Linked DNA regions of Homo sapiens: region 2 is linked to region 1. Evidence: fine-mapped expression QTL. A gene starts in region 1. The other region holds a variant in brackets. All regions are shown on one strand. Distances are between the middles of the regions.

Evidence for each region. PIP is the estimated chance that this variant, and not a neighbour inherited with it, causes the effect.
Region 2: its variant is fine-mapped to the expression of SHISAL1 in lung (TOPMed, PIP above 0.99).

Annotation. Positions count from the first base shown.
Region 1 is chr22:44,311,757-44,314,659 of GRCh38, reverse strand. SHISAL1 (shisa like 1) reads left to right here and starts at 1,709. Exons shown (of 5, transcript NM_001099294.2): 1 at 1,709-1,909. It overlaps LOC101927499 (a long non-coding RNA gene), which reads right to left and starts at 1,649. Exons shown (of 2, transcript XR_244444.3): 1 at 1,517-1,649; 2 at 1-239.
Region 2 is chr22:44,359,745-44,362,647 of GRCh38, reverse strand. No RefSeq gene overlaps it. Among named protein-coding and RNA genes, the nearest start is that of SHISAL1, 48 kb to the right of the region's middle. The variant A/T (reference allele first, on the strand shown) is at 1,219.

The DNA.
Region 1 (2,903 bases):
GTGCAAGAGGATGTGGTCACAGTGGCCTCCCTGAGGTGGGGTCACCTTCCCTCCAGGCAGCCCTCACCCCGGTCTGCCAGGCAGGTTGGTCTTTGTTGTGCTTCCAACCTCTGTCAAAGGTGAACTTTTAAAATTCCTGCCTCGTAGGGTGGATCGCAAGGAGTAAATGTCATTGGCGGACCCATACTTTTCTATGTCATAGGTGTTCCAGATCTGGTGCACAGGAGGTCTGCTTTGAACTATAACAAAATCCACAGGGCAGTCCAGGCTCAGAGAGACAGAGAAACATGCCCAGGATCACACAGCTGAGAAGCGGCAAGGGACTTGAACCCGTGTTCAAACCCCAAGCTCAGAGCCCTTTTGTTTCTCTGCTGCTATGCTGAGCCCCAGACAAGAGGCAGGAGGAACTTTGTGTGCCTTGTTCCCTCTGCCAGGAACACTCCCCCACCCCCACCCCCGCCCCACCGCCCGACTCATCCTTCAGGTGTCCACACCAGACCCCCTGGTCTGAGTCCCCAGCCAGGCGACCCAGGACGAGTTACTGAAACTCTGTACCTCAGTTTCCGCATCTGTAAATTGGGGATAATCACAGCCCCTCCTAATCATGAAGATTAAATAAATACCACCCCCACTCCCGGCCCCTACCCCGTCAGGCTGCATCAGGCACTCTGGGCGCCCATAGCCCCCTGGTTTCCCATCGTGGCACCCATCGCTCTGGGCTGCCATTGTTGGGACCGTGGTTAGATGAGGGGCACCCAGACCAGTCTGAACTCGCTCTCTGTCCACCGAAAGGAATGGAAAAAGGAGGTTTATTTCTGGCCTGGCTCAGGATGGGCAGGCTTCCAGGGATGGGTGGGAGGCAGAGGAGGGCTGGCCTCCTTTATGGCTGCGTTTAAATGCCACCCAGAAGCCAGCCAAGGGCGCCGCCAAGGTACCACGATGCACGAAGGCCCAGGGGTGGGAGACGGCCATGGGCTGGGGGGGTGCCTGGCACCCAGGAAGTGTGGCTGCAGAGGCCAGCCAGGCCCCTGGGCTGTGTCCAGACAGTCATGGAAGCCACTGATGTGTTTCGAACAGTGGCAGGTGTGGGCATCCCCCGCCCTGTTCCTGCCCCATCCCCACCCCATTCCTACTGGCAGGGAGGACCCTCTGCTGCTGGGTGGGGACAGGCCAGGGGTAGGGGGGCAACAGCAGGAAGATCAGCCCAGCTTGGAGTCAGGCAGGTGCCACACACCCTCTGTGGGCTCTCGGGTCCCAGCTACCCTTCCTCCCCGGGCTGGTGTGGGGACCGTTTGTTTTACCCACACCCCTCCCCGGGCCATGCTGGCCAGAGGGGCTTGTGCAGTGGTGCCACTGACCTCCATTGCCCAACAGAGACTGAGGGCCACGGGAGGGAACCCACATGTATTGTGCCAAGCATCTGCTGAGGTGCGGACCTGGAGCCCGGTGCCCTGGGTCTAAGCCCCTGCTGCTTCTAGCTGTGGGATCTCACAGGGAGTGTCTCTAGTTTGCTCACCTGTAAAATGGGGCTCTTGCTGGTGCTCTGAGGATGCACAAGGCTGTAAGACCAGAGGCTGGAGTGCGTGGGGACTGCGGGAGCAGCCGCTGCCATCCTGGGCCTGGGAGGTGGCGGCCCTAGGCCCAGGCGGGAGCTGGACTCCTGCAGGGCTGACTCAGCGCCCTAGCCCCACTCCCCGCCCTGAGGAGCACACTGAATTCTTGTCAGCACACAGAGGCCAGCCTGCGCTGGAAAACACTCTTTTGCCTATACAAGGCTCGACCAAGTTGCTCTCCTTTTATTGGGGTTTAAGGTTGGTGGCAACCAGGAGCCGGGGAAGAGGCCAGCAGCTGCAGGGAGACCGCAGCCAGCGGAGGGGGCTTCTGATCCCTCAGTCACAGGGCTCGGCAGGTAAGGAGCAGCCTGTGGAGGTTTCCAGGTCCTCACTGTGCAGGGGCACCTCTGTTCCTTCACGCTGACCCTGGGGTCCCTGCCCTGGCTAAGCACTGGGTCTAAGGGAGAAGCCAGGCAAGGCTGCTAAGTGACTCCTAGTCACAGAAGAATGGGAGGGGCCGGGGTGACGGCTATGCCAGTGGGGCAAGATGGGGAGCAGGCTCTGATCTAGAGGGGTGGGAGCCCTGTGGGGGTGCACAGATGCTGGTGCTACTACCTACCTGCTGTGTGACCTTGAGCAAGTTGCTGACCGTCTCTGTGCCTCAGTGTCCTTGTGTCAAGAGCCTTGCATAGAGAGGGGTTGGAGAGAAGGCCAAAGGCTCGGGGGAGGGTCCGGCATGGCCTAGGGAGTGCTCTCAGGATGCCCTAGTCATGGCCTGGAGGGCATTTGGTTGGCTTCACGGGGGTGAGGTGGGTCTGTTCGACCCACTTCAGAGTCTGCAGTCCCAGTCCAGCATCACACCGGTACGAAATAAGTGAATAGATGAATGAATGAATGAATGAACGAACAAATGAATGCATTGGCCCCTCCGAATACGCCTTCAAGGCAGGTTTGTTGTCCCCATTTACAGATTGGGAAACTGAGGCTTAGGGCTTTGGCTTCTCTTCACTCCAGTGAGGAAGGGGTTCTGGGGACCAGGGAGGCTGAGGGAGCTGAAGAGAAACCCAGAGCCACCCCCACCCCGAGGCGAGCGCCATGCCTGTCTTTCCTCTTCCTGCCCTGACACTTTAAGTGATTCATTCTTCATGTGATATTTTTGTGTTTCTCCAGTGGGAAAAAAATGCCTCTGGGATTTCCAGGGGTTGTTTTATCTCCATGGTGCAACCAAATAACTCAGGAGGACAGAGAGAAACAAAGGGTTGTTGAGCTGAAGAAGGCCCATGATTGTCTCGGCCAAGCTCTCCCTTTAATAGGGGAGGAAACTGAGTCTGGCCTGAGCCCCTCGCCCTG
Region 2 (2,903 bases), 48 kb before region 1:
CGCTGCTTGGAGGGTCATTCAATAGGCATCGGTCACCTTCTGCATTTCCCTGGGTGTAACTTTCAGACCAACTGGTGTAAGCTACTTTGGACTCCATTGAATGGACCCACCAGGGCTCACTCAACTGCTTGTTCCTCTATGTGGTTTTTCAACCAGGATGCTACGGCCGAAAGTATCTTTGGAACTAGAGCGTCCCTAAGAACAGTCCCTGGAGGCAGAAGCCGGGCCCTGGCTATAACTAACCCCTGGCTGTAACTAACCCCTGGCTGTAACTAACCCCTGGCTATAACTAACCCCTGGCTGTAACTAACCCCTGGCTATAACTAACCCCTGGCTGTAACTAACCCCTGGCTATAACTAACCCCTGGCTATAACTAACCCCTGGCTGTAACTAACCCCTGGCTATAACTAACCCCTGGCTGTAACTAACCCCTGGCTATAACTAACCCCTGGCTATAACTAACCCCTGGCTGTAACTAACTCCTGGCTGTAACTAACCCCTGGCTATAACTAACCCCTGGCTGTGCTCTGTCAGGGACGGTGGAAGGCATTCCTTTGAGAGAAACATTTGGGATCCTCTGGGTAGAGAATCGTCTTGGACAGGCTTGGGGCTGGGAGCCCTGCCTCCTCTAGAACTGAACCCCAGTAAAACTGCCAGCCAGGGGCCCACGGCGGGTACCCTGCAGGGGGACTCCAGCCTGAGAAGGTCTGCAGTGCGGCTTGTGTTTTGCTCGAGTTGCCATATACCAAGGCAGCACCGATGGACGGGGCAGCTTCAACAACAGACAGCCATCTTCTCACCACTCAGGAGGCCAAGGTCCCAGCTGGGTGGTTCCTCCTGAGGCCTCTCTTCCTTGGTGCGTAGATGCCACCTTCTCCCAGTGTCTTTGGCCACCTGATTGTCCCTCTGTGGGTGTCTGTGTCCCAGTCTCCTCTTCTTATAAGGAAACCAGTCCTACTGGATTAGGGCCCACCCCATTGACTGCATTCTAACTTAGTCACCTCTTTAAAGGCCCTGTCTCCAGGTACAGCCACATGTGGAGGTATGGGAGTTAGGATTTCAACACATGAATTTTGGGGGCCATAACCGAGCCCATAGCATGGGTGATTCATCAGAGTTCTAGGATTTAAAGAGCCTGAGTTATTCGAGACTCCAGGATCACTACCCCAGTAACTGCTGCGACAGCACCCTTACCCCTGCCCTTCTCAGGGGAAGCC[A/T]GGTCTAGGGGAGACAGTGACTTGTCCAGGCTCTCACAGTCAGGGCTGAGGCAGAATTGAACCCAGGCCTGGTTCATTCCAGAGCCTGACGGTGCCAGTCGGGAGCCCAGTGCTGGAAGGAGCTGGGAGGAGACAGAACTTGAGACCTATTTACCTTGGCACCCGCAGTGCCCGCTTGGGCTTGGCACACAACTGCTGTTCGGAAGTTGTTGGATGAATTCGACAATGACACATTTGGGCACAGTCCTTGCCCTGGGGGCACACACACCCCCCGATGAGAAGGCAGGCTCGCCGGCACACACCCGAACACCAAGATCACCGAGGCCAGAGCCAGGCCACTTTTCCTTTCTGGTTTGGGCCCTGCCAGCCTCCACACTGGGCCAGTGTGGAGCTGACCTTTCCACGTCTGCTCTGCAAAGCCCAAGCCAATTCCTAAGCCCTCGGCTGTCCCAGAACTGAGTCATGACGGAAGCTGGTGGGATTCCTGGGGGGACAGATCTAGCCCCCACACGTCCTTGCGTGCCTCCATCCATGCCAGCCGGCTCCAGCCCATACCACACCACCCAGAAATCCGCAGCTAGCACACGTTTCCACTGGAATGAAGCACTGCCCTGGCCCTGGCTCCGAATTCCTTGCCGCTCGCAGTCTCCAGCCGGCCGCCAGCTGTAACAGCCTGAGATGGCCTGCAGGGCAGGGAGCTGCAGTAGCAAAGAACATTTGTTTTCATCCGGTTGGAATTTTCTCTCCAAATTACACTGGCTGCCGTGGGCCTACTGTGCGAAGCTCCATTTACAGAAACCCTGGGCCACAGTCTGGGCATGACCTGCTCTCCCCAGAGGCGCCTTTCCCAGCTCGGCACCATGCTACCCAACATTCGCGTGCCCTGGGTTTCCAGGCCCCTTCCTGCCTCTGAGCCTTTGCCTACGCCGTTCTCAGTCTCAGAAATCCCTTCCCAGCCCACCCTGCTGCAGCCCCGGGTGGGGCAGGGCAAGGCCCACACTTGCGTCTCCATTGTACTCCTCACCGGCTGCCAGACTTAAGTGGGCTGCTTTGCCTCTCTGAGCCTCGCTTTCTTGGTTTCTTCATCTGTGGAATGAGAATAGGCTTGGGGGAAGCCTGTGTCCTGCAGGCAGTGAGGGGATTGGCAGGAGCCAAGGTGAGAGAGCTTTTGCAAAGCAGGGTAGCTTTTTTTTTGCGACGGAGTCTTCTTCTGTCGCCAGGCTGGGGTGCAGTGGCACGATCTCGGCTCACTGCAACCTCCTGGATTCAAGAGATTCTCCTGCCTCAGCTTCCCAAGTAGCTGGGACTACGGGCTTACACCACCATGCCCAGCTACTTTTTGTATTTTTAATAGAGATGGGGTTTCACCATGTTGGCCAGGATAGTCTCGATCTCTTGACCTTGTGATCCGCCCTCCTTGTCCCCCAAAAGTTCTGTGATTACAGGTGTGAGCCACTGTACCCGGCCAGCGGATAGCTTTGAAGGCTGCCTCAGCCAGCCTGCCCCTGGCCCTTTGCACACACGCCCATGCAGCCCCATGGGGAGGATGGCTCCTCTCCAGCTAGCCCCGCAGCATGCCATCATCGCTAACCCCATGGGCCGAGCTTGGGCCCATGAAATCCTCATGACTCTCTCTGGGGAGTAAGTGTCCTCACTACCTGTTTTCAGGATTAGGAAGCTGAGTT